Linked DNA regions of Homo sapiens: regions 1 and 3 are each linked to region 2. The links come from fine-mapping of genetic effects on gene expression. A gene starts in region 2. Each other region holds a variant in brackets. All regions are shown on one strand. Distances are from middle to middle. Region 1 overlaps NMI (N-myc and STAT interactor). Region 2 holds the start of TNFAIP6 (TNF alpha induced protein 6). Region 3 has its middle 8.7 kb from the start of NMI.

Region 1 (5,997 bases), 76 kb before region 2:
ATTATCTTCTTTAAGCTTCTGTATCCTTATCTGAAAAATTTCTAACATGTAGCAAAAACTAACATCCATTAAGTTTGTATTAAGTGTCCAACATTGTGCTAAGTATTTTATCAACATTTCTCATTTAATACTCAAAGCAGCCTCATGAAGTAGGTACTACCATGAAGCACCTGTATAAAACCCTGAGGTTTATAAAGAACCTATCCCAAATCATGCTTCTAGGAAGGGACAAGGCTGGCACTCAAAGCCAGATCCTCCCCACTCAGGAACCCCCAGCTCTGAACAGGGGCCCTCACCATGGCAGACTTAGCAAACATTAGGTTTCATTCCAAATCTCTAGCTCCCAGGCTCTTCTCATTCGTTGGCTATGTTCCCTTAGGTAAATCACTTAAACATCCTCAGAATCTGTTTTCTTGGCTCTGGCATGTCTATATTTAAAGTACACAATAATAACTATCCTATCCTCCTATATTTATGGAATTGTGTGAGTATAAAATGTGATAATGTCTCTGAGAACTGTACAGCTCTACTACCTTGAAATATTACTATCATTATTTGGAGGTAGCATGTGGAGTAGAAAGAGGCTGGTATTGGACATCATCATAGCACCTGGATTAAGTCCCACAGTCATGGCTTTCTGAATACAAGATCATATTCAAGGCACTTGTCTCAGAGTCAGTTTTCTCATCTGTAAAATGGGAATAATCATACCTGCCTCAGAACGTCACTATGAGGATAAGAAATAATATAAGTGAAGTAATATTAGCGAAGTAATAGCTAAATGTCTATGAAAGTGCTTTCCAAATAACATGGTCATATTTTTTAACATTAGTCATACCTTCTTCTTTTTCAAAGGTGATAAGTGCTTGTCCTTTTTGTATCTCATAAGGAACTTTCGAGCTCACTTGAAACGAACAGGAGATATTTGACAACTGGCTGTCATTCTCAGGAGTTTCAACTGATAAGAATTTCATCTTTGTTTCAGGAATATCCTCTTTAATCTAATCCAAATGAAAATGTTTGATTAAAATCAAGACGAGAAATAACTTAAGTCCTTCCAATGATAATGTAATTTGGTCATCCAATAATTCATTCCCCACTAATTTTAGAACCTTGTAGAATATTGAGTATGGTCTTATTTAACATTTTTAGTAATTGCTTTTTCCCATGTAAGTACTCAGTAATCAAATGCTGATCTTTTAATATCATTTCACAGATGAAATTAAAAATATATAATCCTCTCACTTTTTTCTAATCAATGTTTAAACTGTCAATATTGTATGGTGTTCAGTTCTAAAGCCTACATCATTCATGTGAATAAGGACTTTTTAAACAAGTGCCAATAATAGACTATCTCAAAAGGAAATCATTAGATAGTATGTTTAATTTTGCTGCAAAGTATGAAATATAGTGTTGGGTATAATATGGTATTTCAAATCCAGATAATTTCATCCAAAAAGAAAGACTCTAGAATTAGATAATTTTATTTATTTATTTATTTATTTTGAGACAGAGTCTCACTCTGTTGCCAGGCTGGAGTACAGTGGTGTGATCTCGGCTCACTGCAACCTCCACCTCCCGGGTTCAAACAATTCTCCTGCCTCAGTCTCCCGCGTAGCTGGAACTACAGGCATGCGCTACCACACCGAGCTAATTTCTGTATTTTGTATTTTTAGCAAAGACAGGGTTTCACCACGTTGGCCAGGATGGTCTCTTGACCTCATGATCTGCCTGCCTTGGTCTCCCAAAGCGCTGGGATTACAGGCGTGAGCCACCACACCTGGCCCAGAATTAGATGATGTTAAATTTATCAAATTTAAAAATTCCACCTTCCCCAACACCTGCCCATCAACTTTTTAACCATTACCACAACTTAGGTTTATAAAAAATGAGAAGGGACAGTATCAACAGAAATTGTAAGCTGAGGCTACACAGGTGGCTCACACTCGTAATCCCAGCACTTTGGGAGGCCAAAGCAGGCAGATCACCTGAGGTCAGGAGTTTGAGACCAGCCTGGCCAACATGGTAAAACCCATCTCTACTAAAAATACAAAAATTAGCTGGGCGTGGTGGCAAACGCCTGTAATCCTGGCTATTCAGGAGGCTGAGGCAGGAGAATCGCTTGAACCAGGGAGGCGGATGTTGTAGTGAACCGAGATCGCACCATTGCATTCCAGCCTGGGCAACAAGAACAAAACTCTGTTTCAAAAAAAAAAATTGTAACCTGAAAGATAAAGGTAGGTGGTTATACTTAGCTGCTTAGAATTATTGGGATTAACAGATTCATATAACTACACATAAATGCACAAATGAGATAGATGCTTGCATTTCTATTGCCCATGGTTATTTTACATGCTGAAAATAACACAGAGATTAGAAATATTCAGTGAGTCATTCAATTTAATCTTACATTTATTCTTTGCCTTTATGCATAACTCCAGTGGAACTTCTGATTACGGTAAGGCTGACATCAAAACAGTCTACAATGTCTGAGTAAAGGCAGAGTGTTACCCAATAATGCAGAAATACCCAGTATATGCTGAGGAGCAAGGGCTTTCTGAAATTAGAGTGAGAAAGCTTGATTCTATTTCTGACCACACTGCGACAGACAGCAAATTTACTTAAGCTCTCTGATCACAGGTTTGGTCCTCTGCAAAGTGGGTCGACTAGGGCTGGC[C/T]GGTTTCTAAAGGCTCTTTGAGTTATAAGACTGCATGATTCTAGCTCCAGTCTGAGAAGTAACCAGAATCTTAACAGAGTCTTCTGCACAAAGTCACCCATCTCATAAACACAGAAAACCTCACTTCCTGATATTCAATATCCTATCTCCCACTTCAGAAACAAGAAGTGTCAATGCTTTAATTTTTTTTTTTTTAGGCGGCGCCTCGCTCTGTCGCCCAGGCTGGAGCACAGTGGTGTGATCTCAGCTCATCGCGACCTCCGCCTCCCAGGTTCAAGCAATTCTCTGCCTCAGCCTCCCAAGTAGCTGGGATACAGGCACCCGCCACCATGCCTGGCTAATTTTTCTTTTTTAGTAGAGACAGGGTTTCACCATCTTAGCCAGGCTGGTCGTGAATTCCTGACCCCATGATCCACCCGCCTCAGCCTCCCAAAGTGCTGGGATTACAGGCATGAGCCACCGCGCCCAGCCTCAATGCTTTAATTTTTTAACATCTGAGTTGTTAAGAAAAAAAATGGGTGAAAATTATGTACAATTAAAATACAGGAAAATTTAGGAGAGAATTTAAATGGTGAGGATTAATATATGTCCAATTTTTTGAACCGTGAAACTCATCTAAATTACCAAAGCACCTTGGATGAGAAGAATTATAAAAGAACTCAGTGAGAAAAGCCAGAATTTGATCCAACAGTAATTTGCTAATGACCATCTTTTTTTGGTAAATTTTATTAATTTTTTGTTTTTGTAAATTTATTAAAGTGTACGTAAATAATAGAAAAATGCATGTATCATTAAGTACAGCAAGATGAAATTTTACAAAGCTAACACACGTGATTGGCACGCAGATGATAGGCAGGACATGACAACACCCCAGAAACCCCCTTGGGTTCCCTTCTGGGTCTTACCTGCTTCCAAAATAACCACTGTTTTAACTTCAAACATCCTGCTTTTGCTTAATTTAAAGGGAAGCATATGGTATGCCCTCTTCTGTCTTTTTTGTGTTAACATTGTGTTTATGAAACTCATTTGTGTTGCTGCATGTCATTATGATCTGTTCATTCTCATTGCTGTGTAGTTTTCTATCATATGACTATACCCCAATTCACTAATTCGTTCTACTATGAAGGAATCATTGGGTTGTTTTCCATTTTGAACTATTACAAATGGTGGTGCCATGGATGATGATAAGGTTTTAAAAATGAATTTTGTGTAATTAAAATGCTTTTTCCAAAAACCATGCATCCATCAAAAATGTAGTATATAAAATAATTAAGAGAGTACCTGGAATTCTTTGGTAGCCTCTTGTAACTCCGTTTCAAGCTTTTGGATCTCCTTCTTTAGTTGAATATTTTTCTTTGTAATTTCATCAATTAGTCCCTTAAAAATATCAAATGGTACCAAAGAAAGTAAATAGCCCCTGAACTCATTTTTCCGAATGAACTAAAGACTATAAATTTCTCTCATCCTGACCAAAGAAAGACATTAGACAGTCTCAGAATAAATATGACTATGTGAATAATGCATTTGTTGAATATTTTACATCATCACCTGTCTATTCTAACATTGCCAAGTAGTACTATCTCCATTATATAAATCAGGAAACCACCTTTTACACTAGACCGAAGTCACAGAAAGTTGTATAGTAAGGCAAAGATTGAGATCAGATCTTCTGAATATTACTTCAGTGCTGCATCAACTCCTTTCCTAGCTATTTGTGAGCATGATAAGACTTTTAAATTGCACTGTAATAGCGGACATATTCTGGGGCAGTTTGTTGTTGGTGTTGTTGTTGTTTTTGTTCTTAATTATCTGTGATTCCCATAGTATCGCATAGTACACAGTTACCTTAATGAGCCAGACATATGACCTTGGGGAAGTGGTTTAAGCTACCTGGGCCTCCGTTCCCTCTTGGGGTCTAATGAGATAATTGCTGACTATGCTCTTAACTTGTTGATGCAAATCCAAGAAATGAGGGTGTGAGTGAGAAAGCAGCTAGTGTTGTAAGCCTTATAAGAGAAAGAATAAAAATATGACACTTCTTGTAAGGCTTAAATAACATAATGGAAGTTAAAAATTTTTTTAAAGCCTAACGGCCTCCCAAATTCAAGGTAATGTTGGACAAAGACATACAAAACATGCCTTACTGCAAAACTAATAGATATAAAATAATTTTTAATAATACCCAGTAATTTCCTTTTTACCTTATTTTGTTCATCTTTTATAAATTCATCTGGCGAATGCTCCTTAAGAATTTGTTGTGTGTCATCTTTATCAGCTTCCATGATCCCCTAATATTATAAAAAATAAATATTATAAGCATAGCATATATACACAAATTTAAGAACAAAGAAATAAGAACTTTTACCCTTTTATGGAAGAAACATCTCTTCTTTGCTATATCTTTTTTTCCCATCATCAAAGGCTTTATTATCATATGGCTTATATCCAAACAAAGTCTGTATTTTAATAACTCCTTTTTTTTTTCTTTTTTTGAGACAGAGTCTCTCTCTGTCGCCCAGGCTGGAGGGCAATGGTGCGATCTTGGCTCACTGCAACCTCTGCCTCCCAGGTTCAAGTGATTCCCCTGTCTCAAGCCTCCCAAGTAGTTGGGATTACAGGTACCTGCCACCATGCCCGGCTAATTTTTGTATTTTTAGTAGAGATGGGGTTTCACCATGTCGGTCAGGCTGGTCTTGAACTCTTGTCAAGTGATGCACCCCCCTCGGCCTCCCAAAGTGCTGGGATTACAGGCGTGAGCCACAGCACCTGGCCAATATTTCAAATAACTTTCACACCTATAATATATAAAAAGATTCTAAAAATCCTTTGCTTTTCAACAAAATAATATATAGAAAGTAATGAACATTAATGTTCCTTTGTAGTTCACATTCCAACCATAATATCATGCTCCATTTTAAATGAATACTATTTTGGTTTTCCAACGTTTTTCAAAGTTTTTGATTAAAATATTTAATTCTCCCTATTGTTCTCCCCAAATGTAAACAAAGTCAAGAGGCCTCCAACATATGCTTTCTCTACGCAGGTGTTCTTACCTGAAGCTTTCACTAACTCTCCTGCTGGGTCCATAAACATGGATTGGGAAGAAATTATATGTTTATTTCTAATAACCTCTAATTGAAGCTTAGCATTCTCTTCAATTATGAATATGGTAACAAACTACAGTAGTATTCACAGCACCTGTGATAGTCACCAATAGAAAGCACAGATAGTTTCATAGAATATTGTTGCAGATATGCTAAAATAGTTTGTGTTTAACATTGCTTCTACATTAGTTACTAACCTCACCACTAGGTCTTGTA
Region 2 (5,997 bases):
GGCAGTGTTAAAAATGTCCTGTATTGACATATTTTGTGATTCACGGAGCTCCACCCTTTGCTAATCTCATCTTGGTTTTTTTCCTGCTCTTTCCAAGATTGCAACATATGCTTAATAAAGGATATAATTTATATTTTAATTTTCATACAGTGTATCAAAGAATTGCATTTTTGCACATCTTGCCATTCAAATCCAGTCTTAAGTATAATCAGACATGTTGTCTTAGAACCTGTTTTCCTTCTCTCTTTCTTTTTCTCCTGTCTATATTCACCTGACACTTCTCCATCCCTTTTTCCTGTCAGCTGAGACTCAGCATGTCAAAAGGATATAAAATATTTCCTCTTAACTGCTAATAGATGTTTAAAATTCTACTTTAGCGTCTCTCTTGCTGTTTTTTTTCTTTCGAGACAGCATATCGCTCTGTTGCCCAGGCTATAGTGTAGTGATATGATCATAGTTCACTGAAGCCTCCAACTCCTAGGCTCAAGTGATCCTCCTGCCTCAGCCTCCTGAATAGCTGGGACTGCAAGCACACACCACCACACTGGCTAGTGTCTCATTTTTTCAGTTAACTTTGTGCAATAGTGACATCATTAACTATCGTGGCAGCTTAAGAGATCTTAAGCTTGTTCAGTGCAGCCCTATCCCAATTCAGATATGGAGTTCTCTCCACCATGCCTTTAGGTATCTAATAGCTGCTTAGGCTTACGGGCATTGGAACATTGTAGAAAAGCAACCAAAACAGGAACTCCTCTACAAAAAGCAGTCTTGCTGGGTTTTCAGCTAGTGGTGATATGTGCGAAAGGAGCCACTGCACATCTTGACCCAGAGATAGTGGAAGGGGAGGGCATTCCTCTGAGAAGGCAAAATACTTGACTGGTTAAGTCTTCCAGAACCTTGAAAGGAACTTTTTTTTTCTTTTTTTAAGATGGAGTCTGGCTCTGGCACCCAGGCTGGAGTGCCGTGGCGCGATCTTGGCTCACTGTAACTTCCGCCTCCCGGGTTCAAGCGATTCTCCTGCCTCAGCCTCCTGAGTAGCTGGGATTACAGAAGCAAGCCACCACACCCAGTTAATTTTTGTATTTTTAGTAGAGACGGGGTTTCACCATATTGGTCTGGCTGGTCTCAAACTCCTGACCTCGTGATCCTCCTGCCTCGACCTCCCAAAGTGTTGGAATTACAGGCATGAGCCACTGCATCCGGCCTGAAAGGAACTTTTATCAGTGTATCTTCTCTCAGCTCCTCATGAGGCTTATCCTGGGTGGTGTGTGCTGGAGGCTGGGCAGAGGGTGCTTCTTAGACAACTTCCAAGGTAAGTTCATAGGCAACATTTCCTTTGCTACTCTCTCTTTTCTTCTCTCTCGTCCTCAGGATTACCCTCTGCATCTTTTCCATATGAAAACCCCATTTCCTCTTTCCTTTATTGAATGCCCCTCAAAATCAGAACTTACATCATTAGGCATTATTCTCTATTTCCTTGATGATATGGAGGATGAGATTTTCAGACACTATGCAGAGGTAAGGGGAAATATTTATATTCTGCATGAGAGTTGGGAGAGGGGAGAAAGAAATCCTCCACCCCAGATCGGGTTAATTCATCAAAGCAACTCATTAAATTTTCGTGTTAAAAGAAGTTGAACATTCACACTTCGCTCTACTTGGAGCTTCATTAAAATGCAAATGAACACAGAAGGGTATCTGTTCTTAGTTATCTGGCCTAACTAAAGATTAATTGCAAACCCTTTCCTGAGAGTAATTTTTGATAAATGAGAACTAGGGGGAAATTAGGTGCTTGAGAGAGATGCAGAAAGGGCACAGCTGGAGGATGTGACAAGAAAAGAATTGGAAAGACTATGGGAAGGTTTTGCTGTAGCACTGCACAACTAAAGTTATATTTACTTCCTAAACCACAAACTTAAAATACGCATATAATTATACTTTCCAAAGAAATATCATGGTTTATTCCTTCCAACTACCTATGAATCTTGCTCTCAGTAACCATGCCTGTCTTCTCCATAGTCACACCCACCTGGTCTAAACTATACCTTTCTCTTTTGCAACAAACTTAAATTCACTAACCCTATCTGTGAACTTGGATACAATTCCCTCATCTTTCATGTGCCACCAGTCCAAAATAAAGATTTTCAATGCTAGTAACTTTATGTATACCTCAGTGAGCATCCAATAAATTCTGTACTCTCAGCCTACATCCCCATAACTGCTCTTTTGAGAAGAGATGAGACCAGAACACACCTGAGATGTTCAAAGCAAAGATGTCTAAGGGATTCAAAGCTAACTTCAAACCAGAGCATGTCTAGCAAGTTGGCTTTTTCAAAGAACTCCAACATCATTGGAGGGACTAAGAAAGCATGGGAGAAATGAATGCTATAATAGGAGTGAATGGGAAGCAATTTGAGACCAAAAGTAGAGAATCTAAGTAGCAAAAAATGACCAATTTTGTAAAAAAATCAAAAGTTGCCAATAAATGGCTATCAATGAACAATAGGAAATGCCATTAGCATCAGCGGTAGTGGGAGTATTATCAGATATGTTACCCAAGGATTCTACACAAAGGAAGAGGAAAGTTTGGGATATTTGAAGACATGATGACTTTACTGTAATAATTATTATCTATTACCTTGATCGTCTTCTTCAAAGTTAGAGTGGTCTAGGGAAGCTAGGGACAAGTTTTTATTAACTTTGTTAGTCTACCCACCTTTCTCCCAACACTTCAAGAATTTGTGGCCTGGGAAAACTGTGTTATAATAGGACATCCCAAAGCTGCTGGAACATCCTGACGCTCTGAAATTGAAATACTTTTCTGGGAGCTGATACATTTATTTAGCTGCTGACCATAACACACCAAAGACTGCAACAGACCCCACCCTGGAAGAAAAGCAGGCAGAGAATAAGGAAGTCATATATCACTGGAGAAAAATTAGGATTCTCCAAGCTGTGCATACTTTTTGTTTTAAATTTTTTACACAGGCTTGACAATGTTTAGAAAAGCCAGTCCAACATTACCAATAAAAGATTAGTGTTTAACCCCATATCCCATAATTGACACTGCAAATAAGACATTTAGGATTTATCTTGAAATTCCTACTGAAGTTCGATTTTCTTTTAATCACTGCTAAATCTGCATCAAGTTACACAAACTTTCTAACAGAAAAGTGTTTGTGACTAACAATAAATGAACTCCGTTCTTAGTAAGTTAATTTTAAAACATAGATGATCATTCTATCTCCTTAGTTTTGGTTGCCAATGCAAATGAGTCAGAGGATTTGCTTCAGACACTGAGATAATTGTGTAACTCTACAGCGGAAAATGCCATTGGAGAGTACTTGCTGACCTCACAGTTGAAAAAAACTATTTAAAAGATGTGGAAACCAGATGTTTCAGTCACATTTCAGCCACTGCTCTGAGAATTTGTGAGCAGCCCCTAACAGGCTGTTACTTCACTACAACTGACGATATGATCATCTTAATTTACTTATTTCTCTTGCTATGGGAAGACACTCAAGGATGGGGATTCAAGGATGGAATTTTTCATAACTCCATATGGCTTGGTAAGAACCTTCACTCATGAGCCTCTTGTTGAGAATGTCAATTCTTTAAATCATGGAGAAGGAAATTTAAAGCAGTAACTTTTTCTATTCTGTACAAGGCTGATGTTCTCAAAGAAAATGCTTAGGAAAGATAGCCTTTGGAATACATACGCTTTTTTTTTTTTAAGCGTTCTTGTCCTCTAAAATTTAAAAATAGCATTTTATAAAGTGAATTGTTCAGTAGAAAATAGCAGTTAATATTTATATTCAGTATGAAAATATATTTTTAAACTTTTCAAAGCAGATGTAGTAGTACAGTGAGGAGTATTTCTTTAACCAACTAGAAACTCCAATATAGTCTTCTGTTTTTATGTCAATGCATTTGCAATCAGATTTCAGAATCCTAACAGGTAAATTGGAGTCTACGAAAATTTTATAATAATTGCTTCATGGACTCTGAGCTATAGTCTATATCTTAGTTTTTTCAAACATTTTGACTATTTTGACCAAGCCAGCTTGCAGTACAGAAAAAAGTGAAAAATGTTTCTCCTTCTGAATGCATTCTTACCACTTTGATTCTTTCTGTTTCTACTATCCATATAAATACTTTTCTGACCCTTTTGTTAGACAAGGAAAGTTTCTTTTGTTATTTTGTTTTGTTAAATGTAAGGAATGAGACAGGCCAAACAGTGAAGATAAACAATAGATCAAAAAAGGAAAATGCAGAAAATCCAAAACACCCCTTAGATTACAGTATGCTAAACAATGCTTTAATTCTCATGATACAAATTGATATTGCTCTATGTTCATTATTGTGTTTAATAGTAAAAAAAAATTGAATTTCTTGGGGAAAAATGCATAGATTCTTGCATAGAATAAAGAAATAAAGAGAAGGCGAAATTAACCTAGATTTTGATTTTATGCTTTCTAAACAGCACAGTTGTAGAATATTTTCCCTTTCAGCATGTTTCTCTCTGGTAATAACTGCAACCATGCGGATTTCATTAAAAAGCCTAATTTGTAATGCACAGCCTTGCCGCCTATTTTTTTCAGCTTGAGCCAGTGAACTAATTTCACTGTGATCCATTTGGCCAAGACGGGATCTGAAATTTAGTAGAGGAATGAGCCCATCTCTTTATTTTAGTTGAATACAGTCAAATATAGGAAATACACTCATATTTGTCAGGATTTTTTTTAAATGTCATAAAGCTAGTAAGAATTAAATCCAGGCAGATAAACTTTGAAATATTATCAAACCCTCTAATAATCAAGTAATTTAGAGTTGTCTTTTAAAGTGTTGTCATATGTTACAAAAATATAAACCTGGACAATAGAAGTTTTGCCCCAGAGGTAGAGAGAAGCAAATTCAAACGTCTATTAATGTATGCTACAAATCTGAGGGTCAGGATAATTGCAAATTGCTTCAATCTGGGGCAAATTTTTGACCAGCCAGCCTAGCACAGATGTTTATAGTTGGTTGGATCAATATAATCTTTTTAGAAACCATTTAGGAAGGAAAGATAGTTGGATTAGAAGGGATACATCTGTTAGCAACTATCAAGAACAGGACACTTTAAATCTAGGGTGTCCCATCTTTTGCCTTCCCTGGGCCACATTGGAAGAAGAATTGTCTTGGGCAACTCATAATTTTTTTTTTTTTTTTTTTTGAGGCAGAGTCTCGCTCTGTTGCCCACGCTGGAGTGCAGTGGCACCATCTCGGCTCACTCCAAGCTCCGCCTCCCAGGTTCACGCCATTCTCCTGCCTCAGCCTCCCAAGTAGCTGGGACTACAGGCACCCGCCACCACGCCTGGCTAATTTTTTGTATTTTTAGTAGAGACAGAGTTTCACCATGTTAGCCAGGGTGGTCTCAATCTCCTGACCTCGTGATCCGCCCACCTTGGCCTCCCAAAGTGCTGGGATTATAGGCGTGAGCCACCGCACCTGGCCCAGGGAACTCATAATGTTTTAAGAAAGTTTACAAATTTGTGTTGGGCCACATTCAAAGCCGTCCTGGCAGGCCGCAAGTTGGACAAGTTTACTTTAAATTCTCTAGGTTATGGTTCCAATCTGGTAAAATGATAAGGTTGAAGTAAAGGATCCCTAAGGCTTATTTTAACTCTGGTATCATCTAATTTTTAAAATAGTACTTAAAACAAAAACAAACCACAGTTAAGGACAAGAAATTACAATCATTTTACATGGATCATGAGAATAAAAAATGCACAGATAAGCAATTATTTTTATTGTTGAATCTGAAAAAGAAGGGAAAGGAAGGTGGGATGCAGTGGTTCACACCTGTAATCCTAGCACTGTGGGAGTCTGAGGTGGGCAGATTGCTTGACCCCAGGAATTAAAAAGACCAGCCTGGGCAACATAGAGAAACTCTGTCTCTACCAAAAAAAACACAATTAACTGGGTGTGGTGGTGCATGCCTGTAGTCCTAGCTAC
Region 3 (5,997 bases), 59 kb before region 2:
TTTTTATAGAGATTGGGGTTTCGCCACATTTCCCAGGCTGGTCTCGAACTCTTGGACTCAAGCAATCCACCAGCCTCAGCCTCCCAAAGTGCTGGGATTACAGGCATGAGCCACCACCTAATTAATCTATCAAAATAGATTAATATGTATCTACGAAGATATATATTCGCCCAGCCTAATATATATCTTGATATAATAAATTATTTCTGTGGATCTCCCTTGAAATGTGTGGCATAGTTACAAGATAGGGAAAAATATGTTTTTGGGCAAGAAGACTTTCTGTACACCAGTGTTTGACAAACTTCCATGTCCATATAAATCAGCTGAAGATCATGTTAAAATATACATTCTGATTCTGTAGGATTAGGGTGGATATTTTGCATTCCAAAAGCTCCTAGATGATGCTGATGGTGCTGTTTCTTGTAAGAGGTGACAGCGTGCTGGCAGTCCTCGCAGCCCTCCCTCGCTCTCGGCGCCTCCTCTGCCTGGGCTCCCACTTTGGCGGCACTTGAGGAGCCCTTTGGCCCCGCCACTGCACTATGGAAGCCCCTTTCTGGGCTGGCCAAGGCCGGAGCCGGCTCCCTCAGCTTGCGAGGAGATGTGGAGGGAGAGGCGCGGGGGGAATCGGGGCTGCGCGCGGTGCTTGCAGGACAGCGCGAGTTACGGGTGGGCGTGGGCTTGGCGGGCCCCGCACTGAGAGCGGCGGGCGGCCCCGGGCAGTGAGGGGCTTAGCACCTGGGCCAGCAGCTGCTGTGCTCAATTTCTCGCCGGGCCTTAGCTGCCTTCCCACGGGGCACGGCCCGGGACCTGCAGCCCGCCATGCCTGAGCCTCCCCCGCGCCTCCGTGGGTTCCTGTGGGGCCCGAGCCTCCCCGACGAGCGCCGCCCCCTGCTCCACGCACCCAGTCCCATGGACCACCCAAGGGCTGAGGAGTGCGGGCGCACGGCACCGGACTGGCAGGCAGCTCCACCTGCGGCCCCCGTGCAGGATCCAGCTGGGCTCCTGAGTCTGGTGGGGACTTGGAAAACCTTTATATCTAGCTAAGGGGTTGTAAATACACCAATCAGCACTCTGTATCTAGCTCAAGGTTTGTAAACACACCAATCCGCACCCTGTGTCTAGCTCAGGGTTTGTGAATGCACCAATGGACACTCTGTATCTAGCTACTCTGGTGGGGACTTGGAGAACCTTTATGTCTAGCTAAGAGATTGTAAATACACCAATCGGCACTCTGTATCTAGCTCAAGGTTTGTAAACACACCAATCAGCACCCTGTGTCTAGCTCAGGGTTTGTGAATGCACCAGTCAACACTCTGTAGCTACTCTGGTGGGGACTTGGAGAAACTTTGTGTGGACACTCTGTATCTAGCTAATCTAGTGGCGACATGGAGAATTTTTGTGTCTAGCTCAGGGATTGTAAACGCACCAGTAAGCACCCTGTTGGACCAATCAGCTCTCTGTAAAATGGACCAATCGGCTCTCTGTAAAATGGACCAATCAGCAGGGTGTGTGGGTGGGGCCAGATAAGAGAATAAAAGCAGGTTGTCGGAGCAAGGAGTGGCAACCTGCTTGGGTTCCCTTCCGTAGCGTGGAAGCTTTGTTCTTTCGCTCTTTGTAATAAATCTTGCTGTTGCGCACTTTTTGGGTCCACACTGCCTTTATGAGATGTAACACTCACTAAGAAGGTCTGCAGCTTCACTCCTGAAGCCAGTGAGACCACGAACCCACCGGGAGGAACGAACAACTCCAGATGCGCCGCCTTAAGAGCTGTAACGCTCACCGCAAAGGTCTGCAGCTTCACTCCTGAGCCAGTGAGACCACGAACCCACCAGAAGGAAGAAACTCCAAACACATCCGAACATCAGAAGGAACAAACTCAGGACATGCCGCCTTTAAGAGCTGTAACACTCACTGCGAGGGTCCGCAGCTTCGTTCTTGAAGTCAGTGAGACCAAGAACCCACCAATTCCGGACACGCTTGGGCTACACTTTGAGTGACAAGGCTGTACACTAACTGGTTCACTAAAATCATGACCAGAGATTGTCATTCTGGTCGACGGGTTTTATGTGCCACCTGGCTATTACGAAGCGCAGAACCCTCTTACTGTTTCCAGCCTGGAGGCCGAGTCCATAGACGGAAAGTGAGGTATTTCTAGGTGTCCCTGTGTTTCATGAAGGGGCGGTATATGCAAAGCAGCCCCCAAATGCCAAAGGAGTTGAGCTACCAAAGAACAAGGCAGACAAATCCAGTTCGTCAGTAAGGAGTGTTTTAATGGAAAGTTAAGATGGAAATGTGGCGGCAAGGCAGATCTCTGCACTGTTGCTTCCCAGACCCAGGGCTTATATACCACAGGGAAAGGGTATACGTGCTCCAGCAAGACAATTAAAAGCAACCCTCCAAAACAGGCAAGAATGCCATATGCATTATAGCCTATAGTTTGTCTGATAATATCAGGTTTGACATGTTCTTACACTAAGGACAGTAAATAAATGAGGAATTAGGAGGCATTCATGGGACTGGGGCTAATCAGGACTCAATATGGCAGATCAGCATCCAAAATGGAGTCCTTTTGTCTCCACACCCTGGTGTGCTTTTCCTGAGGAAAGAGCAAGAGCTGTTCCTATCTTTCGTGCCATCTCCTTCAGAGAGCATTGGCTTCTTGCTTGTAGCTAGGCTGCCATTATAGCTACTCTGAGGGAAAGGAAGGAATAAACAGTGAGGGGAAATGAGTCAAAATGACACTAAAGAGTGGAAAGAGGAAGTAAGAGAA[G/T]CCAAGAAAAAAGAACAGGGCAAGTGTATATGGGAACTTGAAAGAGGTATTCTCTTCTCTTTCATTAATTATTCATTTCAATTTATTCTAAATAGTTTGCCCTAGTGTACAATGTAACAAGATAGAATGATCTCACACACAGGACTCATTTTAATAACATAATATCTGCATGGGGATGTTTGATAATGTTTAATATACAAAGGCAGAGTTAATTCATCCTTCTCAGGGCTTAAACCCGTCCAGGGAAATTGTAAATAAAAACAAGCTTCATCTCCGATAAAAATAAAACAGTGTCCTTCAGATCTTACTGCTTCGCGACTTTATGAATTGGAATGGAAACGTTGTTGCCTTTTGGGAGATTGACCTCAGCTGTTTTTCAACTTTTTGAAGAATAAGAACTCTAATTTTGGTGCCAATACTCAAATAGAAGTTTTCTCAGGTGGACAAACAACACCTGGTAGGCTGGTTTGTCATGGAAATTGCACCACCTTAAAATCACCAGGAGAACCAAGCTGAGTCTTTGCTTTGACCCTGACTAGCTCTGTGAACTTGGGCATATGTAAAGGATCTGGTATATAATAGGTGCTCAAAAAAATGTTACTACTGATCGCATTTCCCTTTAGCTTTCCGAGGGTCCATTTCTCAGTTTCTCAAATGTAAAAATGATGACAATAATGTTACCTACCAATTATAGGGTGTTTGGTGAGGATTAATTTAGCTAATGTACATAAAAATACTTTTTGAACAGTAAATGCAAAATTAAATAATATTATTAATATTAATATTGTCCTCTGATTTTAAGCTATAATTAGAAGAGTTGAAAGGGATGACTGTTGCATAGAGAAAATAATTTGATAGGTTAAAATATAAAATGCAAGACCTGAATACAGTCACCAAGACAACTGCATAAAATGACACTGGATGGGCACCACACAATGCCTCCTCATGTCCCCTCGAATTGTGCAGTGTGTGCCAGGAACGGATTCTGGGCTGCCAAGACTTAGTTGTTTGCTGATCTAGATTTAGATAGAACACATAAAAACAAGTCAGTCAGATAGTAAGTCTAAGATCTTTCTCTCTCACTCATTCTGTTTCTCTTATTTTTGCCATATTCTTTTTTTTTTTTTTTTTTTTTTTTTTGAGACGGAGTCTCGCTCTGTCACCCAGGCTGGAGTGCAGTGGCGCGATCTTGGCTCACTGCAAGCTCCGCCTCCCGGGTTCACGCCATTCTCCTGCCTCAGCCTCCCGAGTAGGTGGGGCTACAGGCGCCCACTACCACACTCGGCTAATTTTTTTGTATTTTTAGTAGAGACGGGGTTTCACTGTGTTAGCCAGGGTGGTCTCGATCTCTTGACCTCGTGATCCGCCCGTCTCCGCCTCCCAAAGTGCTGGGATTACAGGCGTGAGCCACCGTGCCTGGCCATTTTTGCCATATTCTTTAATGAACTGTACACGTAAGAAAGATGGGTAATATTGAGTGGGTTTTTTGTGATGTAGTCTCTGAAGATATACCAAGCAGCAATTGTTTTCTCTGCTGCTCATACAGCCCCTTTTATGTGGCCACAAACCTAATCTGGCCTCCTGCAAAGGGCAATGTGATCAGATGGCACAGATTTCTTAAAACTTGATTTCAAAAATTCTGCCCAGTTTCATTTCTCATGCCACAGCCAGTGTCTCTTTTTCCCCATACTCTCTTGCATGAAAATTCATAGTTGAATTTCCCGCAGGACTTTTCATGGGGCTAATCTACATCTGGAATTTACCCTGCTAATGATTCTCTTTCCTTTCATCCTGTATACTCGTGCCAGATTATTCTTCTAAAAGGGTCAGTATCATCATGTCATTCGACATGTTAAGCGCTTGCAGATGACATCCCATATATACAATCCAAATTCCAGAGTGTAAGATGTACACTCCCTCCCGTCACTCCCAATACCAAACTTTCCACCACAGGCTGGCTACAGTTTATCGGTAACTTCATCAGCCATTACTCCCTTCCACATCCCACTGAATTAGTCAGCTATCCAACTCCAGAACATACTAGGCCTCCTCTCTCTTACTATTTTCCTCCCCTAAGTTGTTTCCTCTTTTCTTTCTATTATTTCAGTCATACAGTCAGACAAGTGAACTTTCAACAAACCCACACACACACTATACATGCAGTGGTGATAGTGAAAACACAACTGCTCAGCATGGACATTGAACCATGAGAATGGCTCTCACCAGAGTGCTGGAGCAGTGTCCCAGAGAATTCTTTCTAGGCTGGCCATTAATCCCTCAGTTGCTAGATCTTAGGAAGTTCAGGGGAAGAGAAGTTGGGAATTCCTGGTGGAGGAACAGGTATGGCCAGCTTGGTGAAGGCGCTAGGATGGAGATGGGGGAAGACTGCTACTACTTACTAAATGACACAAAAATATTTCATTATTTAACAACTGGTCTAAACCTCTAGAGCATGCTGACTGAACACCAGTGTCAGGCTTTGCTGATGCATCTTCAGCCTCAATTTAAGCTCCTTTTCCAGCAACCCAAGGGCCACTAGTGATCCCTCCATTCTCTAAATTATTTTAGCACATTTTGTCCATACCACTTACTGGGCACATTTACAGCCTTGCATTGCTGTCTTTGGGGAACGATTATACAATTCATTCTCCCAAAGATGGTAATCTTTTCCAAAATAAGAGTTGTGCTGTATCTGTGTTTCTCCCAAAAATGTCTAACATAGTGCCTGTGGTTATTAATTTTATGGGTCAGTTTGACTGGGCTGTGGGATGCTCAGAGAGCTGGGAAAACATTATTTCTGGGCATGTCTGTGAAGGTGTTTCCAGAAGAGAGTAGCTTTTGAATTGGTGGAGTGAGTAAAGGAGATCTGCTCTTTCCAATGTGGGCAGGCATCATCCAATCTATTGAAGGCCTAAATAGAACAAAAAGGCAAAGGAAAGGTGAATTTATTCTGTCTGCTTGAGCTGAGACATCCATCTACTTCTGTCCTTGGACACCAGAGCTCCTGGTTCTCAGGGCTTTGGGCTTGGACTGTAACTACTCTACTGGTTTTCCTGGGGCTCCAGCTTGCAGATGGCAGATTGTGGGGCTTCTCAACCTTCACAATCACATGAGGCAATCTCTTACAATCAATCTCTTTCCATATATCTATAAATATCCTATTGGTTCTGTTTCTCTTGAGAACCCTCACTAATACGGTGCCCTTCTCAGGCAATCTTTTATCCTAT

The links. PIP is the estimated chance that this variant, and not a neighbour inherited with it, causes the effect.
Region 1: its variant is the best candidate, but not a certain one, in a credible set for the expression of TNFAIP6 in whole blood (INTERVAL, PIP 0.84).
Region 3: its variant is the best candidate, but not a certain one, in a credible set for the expression of TNFAIP6 in whole blood (TOPMed, PIP 0.64).

The regions. Positions count from the first base shown.
Region 1 is chr2:151,277,990-151,283,986 of GRCh38, forward strand. It overlaps NMI (N-myc and STAT interactor), which reads right to left. Exons shown (of 8, transcript NM_004688.3): 2 at 4,879-4,965; 3 at 3,959-4,054; 4 at 839-1,001. The coding sequence starts at 4,959. Among named protein-coding and RNA genes, the nearest start is that of NMI, 8.7 kb to the right of the region's middle. The variant C/T (reference allele first, on the strand shown) is at 2,678.
Region 2 is chr2:151,354,192-151,360,188 of GRCh38, forward strand. It overlaps TNFAIP6 (TNF alpha induced protein 6), which reads left to right and starts at 3,401. Exons shown (of 6, transcript NM_007115.4): 1 at 3,401-3,569. The coding sequence starts at 3,476. All of the region lies in intron 2 of LOC101929319 (a long non-coding RNA gene), which reads right to left.
Region 3 is chr2:151,295,404-151,301,400 of GRCh38, forward strand. No RefSeq gene overlaps it. Among named protein-coding and RNA genes, the nearest start is that of NMI, 8.7 kb to the left of the region's middle. The variant G/T (reference allele first, on the strand shown) is at 2,771.